Regions from separate parts of the Homo sapiens genome. Here region 1 is linked to region 2. The links come from fine-mapping of genetic effects on gene expression. A gene starts in region 2. The other region holds a variant in brackets. All regions are shown on one strand. Distances are from middle to middle.

Region 1 (11,001 bases), 570 kb before region 2:
TTTCAGAGGCCTTATTGTGCTTAAACTCGTTAGAGAGGCCATGGAGTTAATTAGTATATAGATTTTCCCATAGAAAGCTAATTTTCAGAATGATTTGCAGCCACTGGATCTGTAACAGACTGCAATCCATTTTCTTCTCAACTTTCTGTTTTTCAAAAGAAAAGTACAAATTGTGGTGACCAGATGACTTCTTCCATGCCTCAGTCCCAGCTCACCCACCCCCTTAGCAGTCTGGAGCCCCTCCAAGGCTGGCTGCTTCTCCATCATCCTGCCCAACTCACTGGCTCTCTACCATTCATCTGCCTTTCCATAAGCACCAATGCAGGCTGCCTGAGGCTGGCTTGAGCAAGGGGAGCAGAGTGAGTGAGCTGAGGGTGCATCTTTCAGTGGTGCAGGGTGCAGGGGTTAAGTGCATGAAACTGGGTCAAATATGGACAAACCCAAGCTCTCCCTTTCTGGCAAGTTACTTCACCTCTCTATGCTTCATTTCACTCACCAGTAAGATCAGGAGAGCAATCATGACCTCATAAGAAGTGTTATAAGAATCATTATTAACATTGATTTTTTTAAAAGGTAACATGGGCTGGGCACGATGGCTCACGCCTGTAATCCCAGCACTTTGGGAGCCTGAGGCAGGAGGATCGCTTGAGCCCAGGCATTGGAGGCCAGCCTGGGCAACATGGTGAAACCCTGTCTCTACAAAAAATTAGCTGGTGTGGTGGTGTGCACCTATAGTCCCAGCTTCCTGGGAGGCTAAGGTGGGAGGATCGCCTGAGCCTGGGGAAGCCAAGGCTGCAGTGAGCTGTAATCATGCCACTGCGCTCCAGCCTGGGCAACAGAGCAAGATTCTGTCTAAAAAAAAAAAAAAAAAGGCAACATGTATTGCTGCTCCCAGTGTTCTAACTTAACTTCCATTCCACTGAAATTCCATTCAGCAAACATTTCCTGAGCACGCAAGAGCCAGGCCCTGCACTGGGCAAGCTCCCACTATGCGCCAAGCCCCATGAGTGCTTCCTTCGTGCCATGCCCTAGGCTGGGTGTCACCCCATATACCAGCACCTATGCTACGTAGACACCAACTGTCTACATTGCCAGATCCCCGAATCGCAGGGCTTCTGCCTATTTCATGGGAGGAAACTGAAGCTCATAGAAGTTAGATAACTTGCCCAACATCACACAGCTAGTGGGGGACACAATAGGGCTTTGAATCCAGGTCTGCCTAATTCTAGAGCTCTAAAGAGATGAAGTAACTTATGGGAAGGGGTAGTTACTATTATTGTTATTATGAATACAGCTACTACTCTTACATTTTCCCCAGAATTCTAAGCCTTCCCTTACATTTCATGGGATTCTACCCTCCTGTGCTCCTAATGGTGGAAAAGTAAGAAAATCAGACTTTCAGCCCTGGAAAGTCCCCTAGAGATCATGGAATCCATCTCTCCCCCTTGGACAGGTGGGGAAGTTGAGGCCCAGAGAGGTTCATAGGGCAACCAAGGGCACCCAAGGAGAGAGAGCAGGCCGGGCGCAAGGACTGTTGACCGCTGGCCAGCCCTCTTCCTCCACACGGAGCCCCCCGCCTTGCTGTATCAGGACTTCGAGCTCCTCAGAGGGCCTCTCAATATGCAAAGCCAGGGGAAGAGCTGACACCTGACAGCCTGGTGATGGTTTGGATGGTTTCTGAAGCCCTCTGCTGAGTGAAGGCAATATTAGTCATCAGAGATCTACACGCGCCTGAGCATCCTTGTCAGAAAATGTGATGACTTAGTGGACTGAAAATGTATTTCCCTGCCTTATCACACATCTGGAGTTCCAGCAGAGCAGCCCCTGGGTTGGGGAGGCAGTCAGCCTCAAGAATTTGCAGATATTGGTGTTTATCAGAAAAAGTCCAAATGGAGGGTGACGGGAGTAATAGCTTGAGAACATGCCGATGGTGATAAGGAAACAGTATCTGCTCATTACCTCAGAGACCTCTCCCATCACCCCCAACCTGCAGCCCTGTCTGCTCCTGGCTTTGAGAGGAGATCACATTTGCTTTTTCCACCAGGGGTGAAGGGAGGGAAAATACCGCCTACTCTGACTGGGGAGAAGCCAGCTGCTCTCCCAGAACTGGGCTTCCATTCCACTGAATTTCCTTTCAGCAAACATTTCCTGAGCATCCAAGAGCCAGAACCTGCTCTGGGCAAGCTCCCACTGTGTGCCAAGTCCCATGAGTTCCTCTTCTGTGCCATGCCCTAGGCTGGGTGTCACCTGCATACACCAGCACCTATGCTAGGTAGACACCGACTGTGTGCCAGATCCCAGAATGGCAGGGCTTCCGAGGTGCACCAGGTCCTATGTTGTGTGGGCACCTCCCAGCAGGTGCTGTTAATGCCAAGTCCTGGGGCATAAAGCTCAATCAGTTGCCCATAAGGCATTTGTAGTTTGTCCAAGAAGAAAGACATGTGACTCATTAGCTAAAATACCCTCTGAGCTATCTATTGCCAGTTGGTTAATAAAGTCCTGCAGGGGCCAATATGGGTGAGAGATTTGTTCTGCATAGGGCTCTCAGGTGAGGCTTCCTGAGAAGTCAGCTTTAAGGGATTAGCTGGAGTCTTCCAGTCACAGAAAAAGGCAAGAGCATCCCAGGAAGAGGGCACAGCTCCAGCAAAGGCAGAGAAGAGTGACAGGACTTAGCACAGTTGGGAAATGGCAGGTTGGCCAGTGTTAGGGAGGAGGAGGGCAAGAGGAGACAGCAGGAGATGAGACCTCAAGGGAAGGACAGAGCCATCTCATGAGGGGTCAGCCATGCTCTGAGGAGCCTTGTGGGTCTGTAGAGAAACCTTAGAGGGAAGCTGCGGAGGTAGACTCTGGGAACTCCACCACATTTCAAGCAGAAGAGCTCCATCTTTATTTCATATATTAGGCACCTGTGTAAGATGACTCTTGAAAATTGGGTTTGGCAGCTAGAAAAAAAGGGGGGAAGGAGGGAAAAATGACAAAGGAAAGAGAGGGAGGGAAAAGAGAGGAGAAGAGAGGGGAAGAAGGGGAGAGAAAAGGAGTAGAGGGAAAGAAGGGAAAAGGAGGGGAAGGGAAAGGGAGAGGAGGAGAGGGAGGAAGGAAAAGATAAACAAGGTTAAGTCTGAATTCCATAGGTTGCAAAGATAAGGAAGCTGAAGTCCCAAAAGATTAGTTGACCAAGCTTGGAGTGGAACCCAGATCTGCCCAGGCACTGTTTCAGTGTTTGGCCCCAAGCCTGTTCATGAGTAGAGCCCAAGATAAAGTTCTGCTAAGCACAGATGCCCCACAACCTACTAGAGTGCAACAGTGGCCACATCTCCCAAGCCACAGAAAGCACCAAACCAATGGACAGAATGTTTCTTATTCACAGTATTTCACCAAAAAACTCTCCTAAGCCTTTGACTTGGCTTTCATCTGCTCTTAGGCAGGCTTGAGGGAGAATACATCCTGATAGTTTGAATTTTCCTGGTGTCTGAAGCAGTGACTTCCAGCTGCTCTGTCGTTTCCAGATAAGGAATCTGAGATGCAGAGGAAAGAGGCATTGTGTCCAAGGTCACATGGTGGGCAGTGGCAGGGACAAAGCTAGATGCCAGGTCTGTTGGCCTGGCACCAGGCTGCTCCACTGTGTCTGCCACTGCCAACAAGCCCCAGGAGGCACTGTTAAAGCCTACTGGATGCTAGTCACTCAATGTGACTTAGTGTGAATTCTGTGTGGGTACCTTCTTGGTACTATCAGGCCTAGACCAGACACATGAGTGCTCCAGGCAGGTTATATTTTGACCCAACTTCAATCTGATAGACTTAAAGGATTTGTTCATCATTTATTTTGGGGATAAATTGAGTCCTGCCTGATGAAAGTTACAGAAAGCAGATGTGTGGCCTCTCCTAATTTGTGCCATGTTCATTATCCCAGCAATTATGCTCCACCCCAAACTTGCATGCCCTCATTTAGCAAAGCAAAAGCCCTGGATTCAGCTAACCCACTCTCCTTAGAGGGCAGTTTAGAAGGCACCTATTTTTCCTTTGGTCTCAGGCAGGGGGAATGGCAGTGCAAGGAGATACCTTATCCCTGCCCCTCACTCCCAAGCAGCTTCTGTTCAGCCATATCCAGTGTCCTCCCTGAGACAAGTTCTAGAAAACATAATTGACCCCACATTATTAGATTTCCAGCATTTTGGGTGCCCTAGCCTTGGTCAATGGGAACTACCATGGTGAGGTGGATCAAGTCCCTGACCTCAGGAATGAACATTCATTGAGCACCTACTGTGTGCCAGGCACCGGCCAGTGGCTTTCATATCGTTTATCTCATCAAACCCCCACCATGGCCCCAAGATGTAGGAATTGTCATCCTCATTTCACAGATGAAGAAACTGAGGCTCAGAGAGATGCAGTCACTTGCCTGGGGTCCCACAGCTCAGGACCAGGGTTTATTCCCAGTTCTGCATGTCTGTAGCCCACCCTATCTCAGGGCATAGGATTCCCTTCTCCCTCCTCATATGGGCCCCACTTCCTAGATGGTGCAAATAACTCCACGGAAATAAACCCTCTGGGCCTGGCTACTCAGAAAGCCAATCCTTTCTCCCAAGGTCACTTGGAAATCCTGGGGTGGAGGCATAGCTCTCATGCTTGCAGTCCAGGTGGGCTTTCTGGTGACCACTGCCCTGCAAACCCCAACTCCTTAAATAGTACCTTCATTTGCAGAGACTGGCCTCCTCACTCCCTGACTGCTATTTAGCACCAGTTCCCCAAAGGGTTAAAAATGGGAACCAAATAATTTATTTCAAGATCTTCAAAAACAAATTCAAATTTTTTTTAATTATGTCAAATTAAGGCCATTAAAAGTTAAGCTGTGTACCCAGAGCATTTTCCTGGGAAAGGTGCTGTAACATCATTATTTCTCCCCAAAACGCACTTACTGTACATTTCTCAAAGCCATCAGCCTTGATTGAAGGCTAATGAAAAAGCTGTCCTGCGTCAGTTTATTCCTTGTATCCATTAAGAATAATTACGGCTGAACAATTTTTGATGCCTGTAACCTTCGAAAGCGTTGCTAATGGCATTATAAATTGCTCCTTGTCCAATGACTATGGCGAGATGCTTAATTCAAAGGCGCTCTGTCAACAGGACTGATTTGTGTGGCTAATGAGCGCGTTTAAAACAACAGCCTCGGCTCATGCATCCGAATGTCAATAAGAGGACGAGGTTCAATAAGGAGGCTTGTCCGTAATAATTAGCAGGGACAAGCGCTCCAGATCAGGCCCATTGTGGCTTTCACAGCGCTGTTCTCAAGACAGCACTAGCATCCCTGGGGCCTGCCCGGGCACAACTCTTCACTCTTGGACTGGAGTTGGAACCAGGACCCAGAAGACCAGGGCAAGGGACAATGGCAGAGGAGGACATGTTGACCAGGGTGTTCAAGACAGTGATAAGAAGAAGCCTAGAAGCATTTATTAAGCACTTCGTCATTAATTCTGCAGACATTTATGGAGCACTTACTGTGTACAGGTGCCAGGGGAGACAGTGGTAGGATAAACACAGATCCTGGTCTCCCCATGTTCACCAACTGGTGGGGCCAATGAACTAAGCCATCACCAGCGAGGCTGGCAAGTGTCATGCTGGGAAAAGCAGAAGATGCAGCGAAAACAGCAAGGAGGGTGCCCAGACAACCTAGTGCCAGGGGAAGTGGTGTTTAAGATGAGACGGAAGCATCACTGGGAGCTAGCCAGTCAAGGGAACTGCCATCAGGGGGACCAAGACAGGATGAGGAAACTGAAGGAAG[G/C]CTCACCTGCTGGAGTGGTGGGAGGCGAGACTGCTAGGGTTGGCAGAGTTGGTGGGGGGATATGGAGCCATGGCTGCCAGGCACATGGGGTGTGGGTGAGGGGATACCTAGGGGAGACTGAAGCACTTTAATGTGCACCTCTCTCCCGTCTCAGAATGCCCTCTCCTATCCCAGCCCTCTAAGTCTCAGTGCCAATGCCATCTCCCCCAGGAAGTCTGCCCTGATTTCTCCTTGCTTTCTTGTTTGGCTACAACCCCCAGCTAGCATCAAGGCTGCGCTTGTCAGCATCTCCTTGTGTCCTGCGTGTCATGTAGACAGTCATCTCCTTAAGAATAGAGACTGATGCCTTAGTTTGCTGTTGCCCCGTAGGGCCAAGCACAAAGTCAGACACATAGCTGGCCCTCAGTCGGGGCTTGTGATCTGCCCTGTTTAACTTTTCCTGGTATTCCCACTGCTATTGTTATTTCTATGGTTAGCTTTTTATTGCACAAACATTCATTACAAATTAGGATAGGGGAAGGAGCAGGAGTAGAAGAGGAGATGTAGGAGTTGGAGGAGGTGCTCAGAGATGAGACAATTTGGGCCCTGGCCTCCAGGACCCCCAACCTTTGTCCTGGATGTGAACACACACAGCATGTTTGCTAAACAGCACAGCTGGCCAGGGGCTAGGGTCTGAGGCCCGTTTGAGGGAGGATTACAAGTGAGTCCTCGAAGGTCCAGTGAAGGCATTTGGCTTTTAATATACAGCTAAAAAAAGCCAATGCTTGCTTTAGGCTGGGGAGTAACATAGGCAGACATAGGTAATACAAGCAGATGCCTCTGACTGCATGTGAGGACGGGATTGGAAAGAAAAAATCAGAGGGAAAGAAAGGGCTAAGAACTCAGGATCCAACTGCCTGGGTTCAAATCTCAGCTCTGCCATTTACAAGCCATGAGGTTTTCAGCAAAATTACTTGCCCTCTACAGACTTAGTTTCCCTCTATATAAGATGGCAATAATAACATAACCTACCTTACAGAGTTATGGAGAGGGTAAGGTGAGAAAATGTGTGTAAAGGATTTTGCATAGTCCCTGGCACTTAATAAGTACTGTTATTACTATAGTCATTGCATATCAAGCACTCCAAAAAAAAAATGGAACCTTGTTTTATCAAATGAGGAAACAAAGATGCAAAGCGGTGAAGTAACTGGCATAAGGTCACTTGGCTGGTATGAAGTGTGAGAGGTAGCTCCAACCCAGTACACTTTCCTCTACTCCAGGGGCCTCCCCAGCACAGAGAGTGATGGCTTACAGCAGCCAGGCTGTGTGTGCATGTGTATGCCTATGTGTGTGCGTGTGTGCATGTGACATGGGTATTTGCAGGAGGAGCAGGGCATAGCATCAGAACTGGATATGGTGCAGTCACACACCCCTGCTTCAGATGTGGGGCTCTGTCCCAGGACAACCCTGGGCCTGCTAGGAGGGCTCCAGGTGTTTGCCTGCAGGAGCTGAGGGGAGCAGTCACGGTGGGGGCCACTCCCGCGCCCACCCACTGGCGCCCCCTGCCTCCGGGGGTTCTCCAGGTGTGAAGGCAGCAGACAGGTTTCAGAGGATGGGCTGTCACGATCTGTCTCCCCTCTTTGGATGACAAGTCTCAGATTCCTATCTCAGCAGAGAGGTGCTAGTGAAATCCCGGAGGAAATGATAAACGGGGTGTTTGCTCCAATCAATCTCCAAGAAGAGATTTCGTTTGAATGCTTTCCACTTCTACTCCTACCAAGAGAGTGAGGAAGCTGCCGTTTAGATCCTGTGCTTCAGTCTTCCATTTTCTCCAGGATGGTGGGTGTTTGGGGCAGCCCAGTCTCTGCCTCAGTAAATGGAGCAGTTTTTAGTCCTTATCAGAGGACGCCCCTGCAGCCTCTGACACTTCACACCTTCTGAAAGCATTCTCCTCCTCTGGCTTCCATGACAACTCTTCCGAGTTTCCTCCAAAATCTCTGGCTGGTCCCTCTTGGTTTCCTAGACAGATGTTTCTTCCTTTGTCTTTCTCGTAACTATCCACATTCTTCTTATTTCCAACCTGTGTTCTCTTCCCAATCCAAGCCTTCTCCCTGAGTGAGTTCAGCTTCATTTGTCACCTAAAGGCTATGGCCCCTAATCTCTCACTCTGGCCAGTGCTCTGCTGACTTAGACCCATGTCACCACCTGCCCTTTGAACATCTCTATTCAGGTGACTTACAGCGATCGCAGCAAATGTCATCATTCACCATAGTCCTCCCCAGCCAGGTCTCTTCCTGTGTCCTTGAACTCCTTAAAACAGTGCCATCATCCATCTGATTGACAGATGATGTTCGTCTCCTAGAAACTTGACCTAAAGAAGCTTCCCAAAATGCCCCTCCTCCCACAGAAAATTGCGAAGCAAGAATGTCTGGGTTTAGATCCAGGCTCTACCATTTACTGGTTGTGTGACCATAGCATGTCACTTAACTTCTCTGAGCCTCAGTTTCCTCATCTGCAAAATGAAGATAATAGGCCCACCTCATGAGTTGTTGTGAACCATAAATGAGTTAATACATGCAGAGTTAGAAGAGACACTCCTATATCTAATTAGTCACTAATTGGATCAGTTCTACCCCCTAAATGTTTCCTAATCCTCTACTTCTTTCCACCATATTGTCAATCTTATAGTAAGTTCAGGACTTACTGCAAAACCTGCCTAATGATCCTCCCCTCCATCTGTCTTGCTGCCTTCATGCACGGCCAGACTGAGTCTAGAGGACATATCAGATCATATCCCTTCTGTGGCTCCTCATCACGGTGTGACAAAGTTCGAGATTCTGAACCTGGTTTTGTCAAATGGGGCCCTTCAGGGGTTTTGCCCCCTGTTTACTTACCCAGCCCCTTCTTTTGCCCTCCTCTGAGCTCTGGCCTTGAGCCACATTAAATTACTTGCTCTTTTCCCAAAAAATAAGGCCTCTGAGCCTTGCATATGCTGTTCCCACTACCACCACCACCGCCATGAACAACAACTTCATCAGAAGCAGTCTTGCTCCTTCTTCAAGTCTGGGTGTAGGCCTTGCCCTCTGGGAGGCCCTCTGTAGTGGATACTGTAGTGTGCTACCCAGATCTCCTCTCAGGACCAAGGTGCTCATTCCCAGCTGCTGGGAGCAGGAGCACTGGCTGCCTCCCTCATGGTTATGCCCCATCCCTGGGGCACCCACATCCAGTGACTGGTTGGTATAGAGTATAGGCCCAGCCCTTTGCCTCAGTTCTGGACAACTCTGTCCTTCCCAGCTCCAGGACTCCCTGTGAGACTGGCTGAGGCCTCCGGTGCAACTGCTTAGCAATTAAACCTCTCCGGGGCCAGGGCGCTTCCCTCATCTCCCTATGGGCATGACTTCCCAGAACCATTTCCTGTAAACTTCCCCCATACAAATCTCCATCTCAGAGTCTGTCTCCAGGAAACCTGACCTAAGATGCTTCTCAAAATGCCCCTACTCCCTAGGCTGGGCACGGTTCTCTTACTTCCTGTGGCTCCCCACAAACCAGTCTCCCTCTGCTACCTTTATTAAACTCCTACAACACTGGATAAAATCAGTGGTTTCCTTGTCCATCCCCCTCATTAAGTGGAAGCTACCTGAGAGGAACCACACTCATTCCTCTTTGTCTCTGCAGTGCCTGGCTTCATGCCTAGAATGGTTTCGTGACACTTAGAGGTTTGTTTTGTTCTGTTTTGAGACGGAGTGTTGCTGTGTCACCCAGGCTGGAGTGCAGTGGCGCGATCTCAGCTCACTGCAACAGACTTAGAGATTTTTATGGAGCCATCTCCAGGAAGGATTTTTGATGCGGCTTATAAAACAAATCATTTAACATTTTGTTCTTTGTTGTTATCAAATAATAGGTATGATAGCCATCTCAGAGCATCATTCCATCCTTGGGCCTGAAGGATACAGGAGGCTTCAGGATGCAATAAAAGATGGTAAGAGGCTGGTGGCTCAAGCCTGTAATCCCACCACTTTGGGAGGCTGAGGTGGGCAGATCACCTGAGGTTGGGAGTTCGAGACTAGCCTGGCCAACTTGGTGAAACTCGTCTTTACTAAAAACACAAAACTCATATATATATATATATATATATATATAGTACTCAAGACTCAAGTCTCTTCATATATATATATATATATATATATATATATATGAAGAGACTTGAGAAAAGATAGGAGAGACCAGAGAGAGTGAGGGACCAGGAAAGAGATGAGGATTAGTGGAGCATGCCTGATAGTCACGTGACTTGGTAATGGAAAACAGTGTCTTTCACACTTTGATGCAGCCACTTGGGTAGCAAAACAGCCATATCAAATATGCCTCATGCTGTAGCCTGGCATATACTGGGTGCTCCCTAAAACTCTAGTCAATGGCTGCAGTTGCCTCCCTGATAAAGCCTAGGCTGCTTAGCAAGTCTCATCATGGCCCTACGCCAGCTAACCCTTGCCTGCTTTTCTGGTCTCATTTCTTGCCCTGCCTCCTCACATAACCTCCTGTTCACATGCTCCTGCCTATGCACAGGCAGCTCCTGCCTTTCCCCACTTTTGCCACTCAGGGAATTCCTATTCAACTGAAGCCCTCCCTGATTGCTCCAGCAGGCTATTTCCTTTCCTTCTCTGATTGGTTTTGTATCACTCTGCTTTGGGATCACCTGTAATCTTGTCTGTCTCCCCAAGCAAACTGTGAGCTTCATGCGGGCAGGGAATATGACCAATCTGTCTCTATCTCCAGCACAGCACTTAACCTAACCCTAAGCATAAGATCACACATTGTTGGCTAAGAGGATGGATGAAGTTTCTCTGCATCTGAGTTGGCTCAGGGCATGCCTTTGGGTATGATCTTCAGTTCCCTGGGACATAGATTGAGAAGAAGCTTAGAGCACTCTGGCACCTCTGGAAAGCATGTAGTTAAAGACCCAGTCACAGTCTCCAGAGAAGGTGCCATGGACTCGGTGATTAGAGTCACAGGTTTCATCTAGATCTCACTTGGGGGAAGTGGGGACCAACAGCCTTGACACTGCCTTACATCCATAGTGTCCATAGAGCACCTGCCCCAGCACCATCCCAGTCCATAGTATCTCTACTTCGTAGCAACCCCAAAGTCAGGTGTGATGCTAGCCCTATTTGACAGATGATAACTAAGGCTCAGAGGTCTCCTAAACTCCTTACAGTTCCACCATTCCTTGATTCAATGACTCTTACTGG
Region 2 (11,001 bases):
CTGGGAGGAAGGAGATGAGAGGGGTTGGGGAATACTGAGCATCCCAAGCAAAAGCACTGCTTCTACAGTACGACATGATGAAACACCTTTATCATCTAGCAGGCCAATGCATAGTGTAATGACTCAGGCGCTTAAAGGAACTTGGGCTTGAGGCTTTCTACTTCCGCTGTAGAGTTCAGAACAAAGGACTGCAAGAAATTGGTCAAAAACAGAACTGCCACCTTCTGTAGGGCTCAGAACTATCTGGGTCTCATGTATACAGTGTCTGGTCCAACTCTAATTTTTCAGTTGACACAAACAGATGATGTCCCTTTATGAAACCTCTTCCACAGTAAGCATCTATTAGTTGGATCTGGGGACTGGACTAGACTTAAGTAACCACTGGCTGGAAAATAGGAAAGGTCACTTACTGTTGCCGCCTCTTCCAGGGCCTGTTTGTTTCCTCCAAGGGCTTTAAAAAGAACGTTGTAGTTACTATTACATTTTAACAATAAATCATCTTGCCTAATAGTACCATTTATCTTTCTAAAACTGGTCCAGCCCTTGGTCTAACCTTCAAGGACCTTCACCATCTAATCTATTCTTTCTCCAAGTTATATCCCAAATGTGCCACTGACTCTCATGACTTGTTGCCATGGTACTTTGTATTTCCTCTGCCTGAAATTCACCTCCGTACTTAACAAATTTCTAACTCATCCTTCAAAACTCAGCTCAAACATCACCCCAAAAATTCTGCTTATTTTTCTTTTTAAAAAATATATTTTAAATTTTATTTATTTTTGAGACAGAGTCTTGCTCTGTCACCCAAGCTGGAGTGGAGTGGCGCCTCCTTGGCTGTCTCCTGGGCTCAACTGATCCTCCCACCTTGGCCTCCCAAGTAGCTGGGACTACAGGCATGCGCCACCACATTCGGCTAATTTTTGTGTTTTTTTGTAGAGATAGGGTTTCGCCAAGTTGTCCAGGTTGTCTTTTTTTTTTTTTTTTTTTTTTTTAAGTAGAGATGTGGTCTCCTGCTATGTTGCCCAGGCTGGTTTTGAACTCCTGGGGTCAAGTGATACTCCTGCCTTGGCCTCCCAAAGTGCTAGGATTATAGGCATGAATCCCCACCCTATGCCCTGCCCTCTGCTTATTTTTCTTTTTTAAAAATTTATTTTTAATTATTTTTTTTAAAGCTTAAAGATATGGTCTTGTTATGTTGCCCAGGCTGGTCTCAAATTCCTGGGCTCAAGTAATCCACCTGCCTTGGCCTCCCAAAGTGCTGGAATTCCAGGTGAGCCACTGTGCCCAGCCTGCTTATTTTTCTATCTCAGCAGTTTGCTGCAAAGTGTAGAGTTAGTTGCTCACCCTCATTATACCCAATAACTACTCAAAGCTGTTTAAATGTCCATCCCTGCCTTGGACTGAATTCCAGAGATGACATCCTTTGCTTCTGGCAAAAATCTAGCAGTCAATAGATGTACAGTAAACGTGTTGAATGAAAAGGTCTTTGTGAGATTTACATGTAGAATAAAAAGTTAGGTTAGAACCTCCTGCTAGAAACTCTCATAGTATCTTGTAAAACAGTTAAGATCTCAGGCTATGAAACCAGAATACCTGGGTTCAAACAGACTATCCCACTAACTAGCTTATGAGGCCTTGAGCAAAGTGTCCAATTTCTCTGTGCCTTAATCTTGTCATTTTGAAAAATAGGGATATTATTAGTTATGAAGAAAAATTAGTTAATGTATGTAAAACACTTGGTACAATGCCCATCTGGCATAGAAAGCACAATATGCTCACTGACCACTACTCTATTCTATCTCCTTTGTAGTACCTATACTTTTAATTACATAATTGTATGTGGATTTTTCTAATAGCTCTTTTCTACTAATCTGTATGTTCCTGAAGGCAGAGACAATGTCTGTTTTATTCCCTAGTGCATCTTTAGCACCTAGCACTGTGACTGACACATGCTCAGTATTTGGAGAAATAAGCAAATGAATGGCTTAATAAATAAAAGGGCAAGTCAAAAGGATCATTCAATGTCTAATATGTGAGCAGACCATGCATTTCTATCCAGGAAGGAGACTACATGCTGGATAGTTAATAATAAGGAAAACAGAAAAGGGCAACCCAGCAGAAAAGTACAGCCTCCTGCATTTCTCCGGACATTTAATAAGGGAGTGCAGAAACAGGCTGGGATTTTTCTCTGGCCAGGAAAACTGATGTGTCTTTTTTTTTGAGACGGAGTTTCACTCTTGTTGCCCAGGCTGGAGTGCAATGGCGTGCTCTCAGCTCACCGCAACCTCTGCCTCCCAGGTTCAAGCGATTGTCCTGCCTCAGCCTCCAGAGTAGCTGGGATTAGAGGTATGCGCCACCACGCCCGGCTAACTTTTTTGTATTTTTAGTAGAGACAGGGTTTCTCCATGTTGGTCAGGCTGGTCTCGAACTCCTGACCTCAGGTCATCTGCCCGCCTCAGCCTCCCAAAGTGCTGGGATTACAGGCGTGAGCCACCACGCCCAGCCTGATGCGCCCATTTTTAGGTTAGCAATTTCCATAAGCTGCAGAAGGAGCTGCTTCGGGTTATTCTTCTATCTGAGCTCTGGTTAACTAACCATGTCATTTATTCATTCATTTTTAAATGGGTAAAATATACATATATTTTTAAAAATACTATTTTCTGGCCGGGCGCAGTGGCTGACTCCTGTAATCCCAGCACTTTGGGAGGCCTATGTAGGTGGATCACTTGAGGTCAGGAGTTCGAGACCAGCCTGGCCAACATGGTGAAACCCCGTCTCTACTGAAAATACAAAAATCAGCGGGGCATGGTGGCAGGCGACCGTAATCCCAGCCACTCCAGAGGCTGAGGCAGGAGAATCACTTGAACCCAGAAGGTGGAGGTTGCAGTGAGCAGGGATCGCACCACTGCACTGCACTGCACTCCAGCCTGGGTGACAGAGTGAGACTCTGTTTAAAAAAAATTAAATAAATTTCCTGATGTGTGAAAATTATGTGAAATTCACATTTCAGTGTATCCATAACTAAAATTTTATTGGAATACAGCCCATCCATGCCCATTCACTACAGCTGTTTTGGACCTGTAAACAGCAGAGCTGAGTTGTCCGACAGAGACCGCCCCGCCCGCCGCCCCCCAACCACCCCCCCATTTTTCATAGAGAAAAATGAAGTAGGGAAGTGAGACAGAGAGTGAAAGGGTCTGCAATTTTCCATAAGTGGTCATGTCAGATCTCATTAAAAGGTGACATCTGAGCGAGCCCTTTCTGAAGGGTGTCACCTAACCCCAAGGGGCTCCTGGCCTCCGCCCAGGGAAGCTCTCCAGCTCTTACCGAAGTAGTCAAGCCAGTTCATCTCGCGCAGAGCCTTGGGGAGCCGCAGGATCTCGATGTTGTAGAGGTTATCCACCTCCTTGAGGAGGTTCTGCCTGTCTGACTCAATTTGCTTGATTCGTATTTCCACTGCGGGAGGGCAGAGCCGACAGGACACGGGTCACGGGCGGGCGAATCTGTGCAGCTCGTGTCCCCACCCGCCAGCATCCCGCGACCGCCCCAGGAGGCCGCGACGGCCTGGCCCCTTACCTTCACGGTCGAAGTCTTTCAGAAAGGAGGCGAGCTTCCGCCTCCGTAAGGAGTTGGTCTTGGCCACCCGACTACTGCCCTTCCTAGGAGCCATGGCGCTCGGCGGAGGCTGCGGGGAGCGGCGGAGATGGGGCAGGGAAGCAAGAAACTGGGTAGGGACGAGGAGGGCGGACGGGGACCACCCGAAGAAGTCGCCAGGCACGTACCTGCGGTCCCGAGACAAGGGCTGAGCAAAACCTCGCTGTGCCAGTGAGAGAGAGCGGCTCTACAGTCAACCGCCACCCAATTCAAACTCCACAGTCACAGGCTGACGAATGAGAAGCCGCCGTCCCACAACATCCAATCACAAGCAAGTTCCTGCCGGCCCAGGGTCTTCCGCCCAATGCGCCCCCTATAGCCTGAGTGCGACAGCGAGGCCGCCGCCGTCGCGGGTACTCCTGGGAGTTGTGGTCCAGGCTTGTTTCCCCGCCCTCCCCACCAACCCACCCGGCTCCGCCCTGGCCGGCTGCGAACTATACAAACTACTACTCCCGGCAGGCCTTGTGGCGGCTCTGCAATACCCCAAGCTCTGGAGGGCTGGGGGCCTACTAGGTCAGGTCGGCTGTAGGATTCTGCTCCAGGGTTGGCGGCTGCTTCTTTCTGGCCTGGCTGCCACTGAGTAGCCGAGGGGCCGCCGTGACCCTCTGACTGATTGACTGGCTGGCTGCCTACGTCGGCGCTCCTCAGGGCCCCAAGCTCCTCAGGCCGAACTTCGGGCAAGTGGCGGGTCGGCAGAGACAGAGCAGCCCCGGCAGGGTTTGACAGAGCAAGGGGGACGGAATGATAGAGGAGCAGGGCAGGGGTGCAGGCTTTGGGGGGGGCGCGCTATCCCGCGGCCAGTCTGGGCAGCGAGTGGGGGGAACCCTGTCGTTCCTCGCTCCCCCGCGGGCCGGCCACTCCCGCCCAGTTCGCGTGTTGGCGCCTCGACTGGGTGCGCAGCGCGGGGCTGCGACTTCAGGTGCAAGTAGTGGCGCTTGGCAGCTGGCCACACGGTGACTGCAGCATGAGCCGCGGCCACCAGGCTCCAGGGAGCCCAGGGCAGGAGGCAGCTCTGGGTGTCGTGGCCGTGGGCCTGGGAATGGGCGTGTAGACGGCGAGCCCCGCCGAGCCGCGGTCCTGTCGGAGGTGCTAACTGTGCATCTTGGTATCTGCCCACGGCCACAGGGTTGGATTGCTCAAGAGTTGTGCTGAGACCCAGAAGGCTAGAGGCTAGTTTCGAAGCTGTAGCTCAGGCTGAGTCTCAAGGCGGGCGGCGACTGGACGGCCAGACCGGCGAGCTCTTGACGGGTTTGTGGCCTGATTGTTTGGATTTGGTGCTTTTCACCTGTGGATGCGGTCTGAAGCCATGTCAGAGGGGTTGTGTTTAAGCGTGCATGTTATAGGCTATGGGAGTGATAATCTTGCCTCTCCCCCTCTGAGTTGAGGAACAATCGAAGAAATAAGCAAAGGTGCCAAGCAGGCTCCTGATGGGCACCAGCGAGCTTGGGGACAGAGCAGTCCAAGCATAGAAGTCCTGGCAAGCCTGGACCTTCCTGGAAAGTCCTTTCTCTCTCTTCCACCCTGGTCTGTTGCTCCATATGCAACAAATATTTGAATGTCGCTCTTCCGCCCGAGGTCAGCCCTGGGCAGTGGGTAGTGGGGGTGACACCCCAGTCTGCTGGGTGCCTGAGGATCTCCATCAGTCAGATGGCCAAGATGAGACGGGATGACAACCCGTACCTCATGTAGGCTTTCCCCCTGCAGGTGTTTTTATGCTGCGCAAGTCGGGCTTCCAGCCTCTCGGTTTCAGGGTTTCCTTCACCCTACTCCCCAGTGAGCCCGAACTCCCTGGGCACCTAGGACGTCCACCTGCATTTTAGCCAGAGCTGCCACGTCAGGAGCCCGTGATTTACTAGTTTTTGCCAGTTGGTTGTGATACACAATGTCAAAAGTGTCATTAAGGCACAACCGGAGGCGCAAGATAAGAGGAAAAGACTCCACAGCTAACAGGACATGCCACCACCGCCACCCAATTTAAACTGCCGCAGGCTGACAAATGAGAAGTCGCCGTGTTTGGACGGTCCCAACATCCAATCCCAAGGAAGCTTCAAGCCGAGTGGCCAGTCCACATGTTGGACTACAGTACCCAGAAGTCATTGCGGCACTACGATATATTTTCGCGACTCAGTAGCCAGGCAGGCCCGCGGAGTAGCTTTGTGGGGAGGTCGCGTGTGAGCATGCGCAGAGAGACTGTGGGCGCGTGGTGCAGTCCCTGGAGGGTTCTCACGCTTTGGCTGTCTGGACTTTTAAGTTTTTCCGCTTTTTCAGGAAGGCGACCGGCAGCCTCGGGCAGGGGAGACAGGACTGTATGTCAGAGAAGAGACGGCGCTTGGACGCCAGGAATCCTCTGAAGCAGGAGACTGCCCTATCCAGGTTACCCTTCCCGAGGGGAAACCAGGGTCTCCTTCAGAAAGCTGAGGCAGGCCGGGCGCGGTGGCTCACGCCTGTAATCCCAGCACTTTGGAAGACCGAGGCGGGCGGATCACCTGAGGTCAGGAACCCCGTCTACTAAAAATACAAAAATTAGCCAGGCGTGTTGGCGGGCACCTGTATTCCCAGCTACTCGGGAGGCTGAGGCAGGAGAATTGCTTGAACCCGGGATGCGGAGGTTGCAGTGAGCCGAGATAGCGCCACTGCACTCCAGCCTGGGCGACAGTGAGACTCCGTCTCGAAAAAAAAACAAAAAAAAAACCCTGCTTCTGGAGGTGAGACAACTCCTGTCTGAACACGATAACAGAGATGACGCCCACCCTCGACCCAGTGCCTCCCCGACTGACTTGGCACCCCAACGTGGTTATTTTCTGTTTTTATCTTTTTCAGCAGAAGATGACTCAAGACCGGCCTCTGCTTGCCGTGCAGGAGGCGCTGAAGAAGTGCTTCCCCGTGGTGGAGGAGCAGCAGGGCCTGTGGCAGAGTGCCCTGCGGGACTGCCAGCCCCTCCTGTCCTCCCTCAGCAACCTGGCGGAACAGCTGCAGGCCGCACAGAACCTGCGGTTTGAGGATGTGCCGGCGCTTCGGGCCTTCCCAGATTTAAAAGAGCGGCTGAGGCGTAAGCAGCTGGTGGCTGGTGACATCGTCCTGGACAAGCTAGGGGAAAGGCTGTAAGCAGCTCCCTAGTGCTGTTTCTTGGTGGAAGGATTTTAAAACGAGGTGTTTTATATGTAGCTAGTGTCAGTCCAGAAGGTGTTTTTCTCCTTGAAAGCGTGGCATGTGGAGGTATCTCAACCTTCCTTACTTCATCTGGGGCAGTGGGACCTCGGTCAGAAAGCCATTTTCTGGCATTTTCTTTGTCAGAGACTAGGCATGGCAGTGGTGGGCTTAGTAGAAGTCACAAAAGAAGAAGAGAAAAGGAGCGGAGAAAGCCTATTAGCTCTGCCCTATAGTTTTCTTTGGTAAAAGGCAGTGAGGAGCTGTGTAAACTTAGTAGGTGCTAGAGCTAAGGGGTTTATGTATATTACGTTATAAAGTCTCTTCAACATATCTGTGACTTAACTGCACTTAATTCTATGCAGGTAGGAAACTGAAGCTTAAGCAGATTGCCCATGGTGACGCAGCTAGAAAAGGGTAGAGCTGGGATTCTAACTCAAGTGTGCCTGACACAAAGGCTAGAGCTCTTAATCACCACTTTGTTCTGCTGTAGATTGGTGTCTCTGTGCCCAGGAGTAGCACGTCTCCAAGTTCTGATATGCTTGTTGTCAGACCCAGTGCCTGCGTTACAGATTTTTTTTTTTTTTTTTTTTTGAGACAGGGTCTTGCTCTGTCACTCAGGCTGGAGTGCAGTGGCACAATCACAGCTCATTGTAGCCTCGATTTCCCTGGTTCAAGCGATCCTCCCACCTCAGCCCCCCAAGTACCTGGGACAACAAGCGTGCACTTCCATGCCCAGCTAATTTTAAAATTTTTTGTAGAGATAGGGTCTCACTATGTTGCCCAGGCTGAGAGTTACAGGTTATTGAGGACAGAGGGGAGACAGGGCATGTGTGGCCTTTCCTTGAACTGGAACAAAAGAAAGTTCCAGTATATAGAGTCTGTCATAGACTAATAGGAAACTGTCACAGATGAGGACTTTCCTTTTATTTATTTGTACAAAATACGTTCATTAGGCACCTTGTGGGATGCCAAGCACAAGGTGCCAAGAATATAAAAATGAACCAGATTTAGTTCCTGTTCTTAGTTGAGTAGAAGAAATAAACAATCAGTGAATTAAATTGTGGGATGTCCTAAGATATTGATAAGTACGGCTTGTGTGGAGTGGGGAAGTTTCTGGGGAGGAAGTGATATTAAAAACCTAATGGTTGAAAAGATGTAAACAGAGTCAAGACGTGGGTATGAGTAGTGTGCATAGAGAATAGTATGACTGGCCCGGCACGGTGGCTTATGGCTGTAATCCCAGCACTTTGGGAGGCAGATCACTTGAGGTCAGGAGTTCGAGACCAGCCTGGCCAACATGGTGAAACACCATCTCTACTAAAAATAAAAAAAGTTAACTGGCTGTCGTGGCACACACCTGTAGTCCCAGCTAAAGGGGAGGCTGAGGCAGGAGAATCTCTTGGACCTGGGAGGCAGAGGTTGCAGTGAGCCAAGACTGTCCCACTGCACTCCAGCCTGGGTGACAGAGCAAGACTCTGTCTCAAAAAAAGAGAGAAAAGTATGACAGGAGCAGAGGCCTGGTAAGAGATGAGATCAGCTGGGTATGGCAGCTCAGCCTGTAATCCCAGCACTTAGGGAGGCTGAGGCAGGAGGATCGCTTGAGCCTAGAAGTTTGAGACCAGCCTGGGCAACATAGTGAGATCCCATTCTCCATGAAAAGGAAAGCAAAACAAAAAAAAGATGAGGCCAGGTACGGTGCCTCACTCCTGTAATCCCAGCACTTTGAGAGGCTAAGGACAAGAGGATCATTTGAACCCAGGAGTGCTGTGAGTACCTATGAGTGCTTTACTTAATATTTTGTCTTTTATTTATTTTTATTTTATTTTTAGAGACAGTCTCACCCTGTTGCCCAGGCTGAAGTGCAGCGGTATGATCATAGCTTACTGTAGCCTCTAACTCCTCCTGCCAGCCTCCTGAGTAGCTGGGATTCCAAGAGCATGCCACCATACCTAGCTAATTTTTAAAATTTTTTGTGGAGATAGTCTTGCCATATTGCCCAGGCTGGTCTCAAATTCCTGGCTTCAAGCTGTCCTCTGGCCTTGCCCTCCCAAACTACTGGGATTACAGGCATGCCACTGCACCTGTTTTTTTTTTTAAATGTTTTAATTAAAAAAAAATATATATTAGCTGGGCACGGTGGCTCATGCCTGTAATCCTAACACTTTGGGAGGCCGAGGTAGGTGGATCACCTGAGGTCGGGAGTTCGAGACCAGCCTGACCAACATGGAGAAACCCCGTCTCTACTGAAAAAAAAATACAAAATTAGCCGGGTGTGGTGGCGCATGCCTGTAATCCCAGCTACTCAGGAGGCTGAGGCAGGAGAATCACTTGAACCCGGGAGCCAGAGGTTGTGGTGAGCCAAGATCGCACCATTGCACTCCAGCCTGGGCGACAAGAACGAAACTCCATCTCAATAAAAAAACAAAAAACAAAAACAAAAACTATACACACACACACACACACACACACACACACACACACACACACACACACACACTTTTGAGACGGAGTCTCGCTCTGTCACCCAGGTTGAAGTGCAGTGACGCGAACTTGGCTCACTGCAACCTCTGCCTCTGGGTTCAAGTGATTCTCGTGCCTCCCGAGTAGCTGGGTCTACAGGTGTGCACCACCACACCTGGCTAATTTTTGTATATTTAGTAGAGACGGGGTTTTGGGACATTGGCTGGTCTCAAACTCCTGACCTCAGGTGATCCACCCCGCTCAGCCTCCCAAAGCTGGGATTACAGGCAACAGCCTCTGCACCCAGCCCCTTTCTTGATTCTTGAGCCACCCGTACCTCCAAGACACTGTCACTAATCTCCTTAGACCAGTGGTCTCAATTGGAGATGGTTTTTCTATGAGGGGACATTTGGCATCATCTAGAGGCATTATTGGTTGTTATGGCTTATGGAGGGTATAGGTATAGTTTACACCTGTCATTTAGTGGGTAGGGGCCAGGCATGCTCCTACACGTCCTACAATGTACAGGGCAGCCCTTCACAACAGAGAATCATGTAGTCCAAAATATCAGTAGTGCCAAAATTGAGAAACCTTCCTTTATACATGTCTCATGATATTGCCTAATGTCAGACTCTTTCTTGCAGAGCCATCCTCCTCAAGGTGCGAGACATGGTCAGCAGCCATGTGGAGCGAGTGTTTCAGATCTATGAGCAACACGCAGACACAGTTGGCATTGATGCTGTCCTGCAGCCTTCAGCAGTGAGCCCCTCTGTGGCTGACATGTTGGAATGGTTGCAGGATATTGAGAGACATTATCGAAAGTCGTATCCTTTGCACACATTTCAGGTCACAGCCAGAGCTGTTCTAAGTCTTTCAAATTTCAGTTTTCACAAGATTGGAAAACTAAGTAGTTTGAGTCAGTTCTCTTTGGTTCCTGAACTTGGATTCTTCCTGCATTCCTTTGTATAATCCTTCCTCTAATAATTTATCGAGTAGCTACTACCTGTCAGGCACTGTTCTTGGTGCAAAGAGACAGGCATTGAAAAAGGCAAGTAGAATGCTGAATGGCGATAAGTGTTATGGAGAAAAATAAAGCAGGGAAAGTGAGGAGTGAGGGTGGAGTTGTGATTTAAAATAGGGTGGTCAGAGCAGGCTTCATGAGAAAGTGATATTTGAGCAGAGATCTGAAGAGGGTAAGGGAAAGAGCTATGTGGCTATTTGGGGAGAGAAAGTTACTAGGCAGAGGAAACATCAAATGCAAAGGCCTTGTGGTAAGAACATTCCTGGTCTATTCAGGAAATAGTAAGGAGGCTAGACTGGAGCATGAGGAGGAGCCTAACAGCAGGTGAGGGTAGAAAGACAGGGGGCTCGACTTTCTAGGGCCTTGAAGGTCTTTGAAAGAATTTGGGGTCTGGGCGTGGTGGCTCACACCTGTAATCCCAGCCCTTTGGGAAGCTGAGGTGGGAGGACTGCTTGAGCCCGAGAGTTTGAGACCAGCCTGGGCAACATGGTGAAACGCCGTCTCTACAAAAAATACAAAAATTAGCCAGGCATGGTGGTATGTGCCTGAAGTCTGTAATCCCAGCTACTCGGGAGGGTGAAGCTGGAGGATTGCTTGAACTGGGGGAGGTCAAGGCTGCAGTGAGCTGAGATCGTGCCACTGCACTCCAGCCTGGGTGATAAAGTGAAACTCTGTCTCCAAAAAAAAAAAAAAGAATTTTGGGCCAGGCATGATGG

Alleles and levels. Positions count from the first base shown, and alleles are read on the strand shown. Sizes are in standard deviations (SD) of each study's normalised expression.
For the expression in atrial appendage of the gene that starts at base 5,832 in region 2, G is the high allele of the variant in region 1 and C is the other (moderate effect, 0.66 SD a copy in GTEx).

What was found. PIP is the estimated chance that this variant, and not a neighbour inherited with it, causes the effect.
Region 1: its variant is fine-mapped to the expression of AIRIM in atrial appendage (GTEx, PIP above 0.99).

Annotation. Positions count from the first base shown.
Region 1 is chr1:38,252,570-38,263,570 of GRCh38, reverse strand. No RefSeq gene overlaps it. Among named protein-coding and RNA genes, the nearest start is that of LINC01343, 43 kb to the right of the region's middle. RefSeq lists an enhancer at 1-1,058. The variant G/C (reference allele first, on the strand shown) is at 5,777.
Region 2 is chr1:37,685,360-37,696,360 of GRCh38, reverse strand. AIRIM (AFG2 interacting ribosome maturation factor) reads left to right here and starts at 5,832. Exons shown (of 5, transcript NM_001350770.2): 1 at 5,832-6,359; 2 at 6,478-6,755; 3 at 9,909-10,088. The coding sequence starts at 6,481. CDCA8 (cell division cycle associated 8) reads right to left here and starts at 3,845. Exons shown (of 10, transcript NM_001256875.2): 1 at 3,577-3,845; 2 at 3,328-3,456; 3 at 411-451. The coding sequence starts at 3,670. RefSeq lists enhancers at 3,064-3,572, 3,573-4,083, 4,122-4,311, 4,084-4,593, 4,594-5,104 and 3 more and silencers at 4,542-4,711, 4,732-4,791.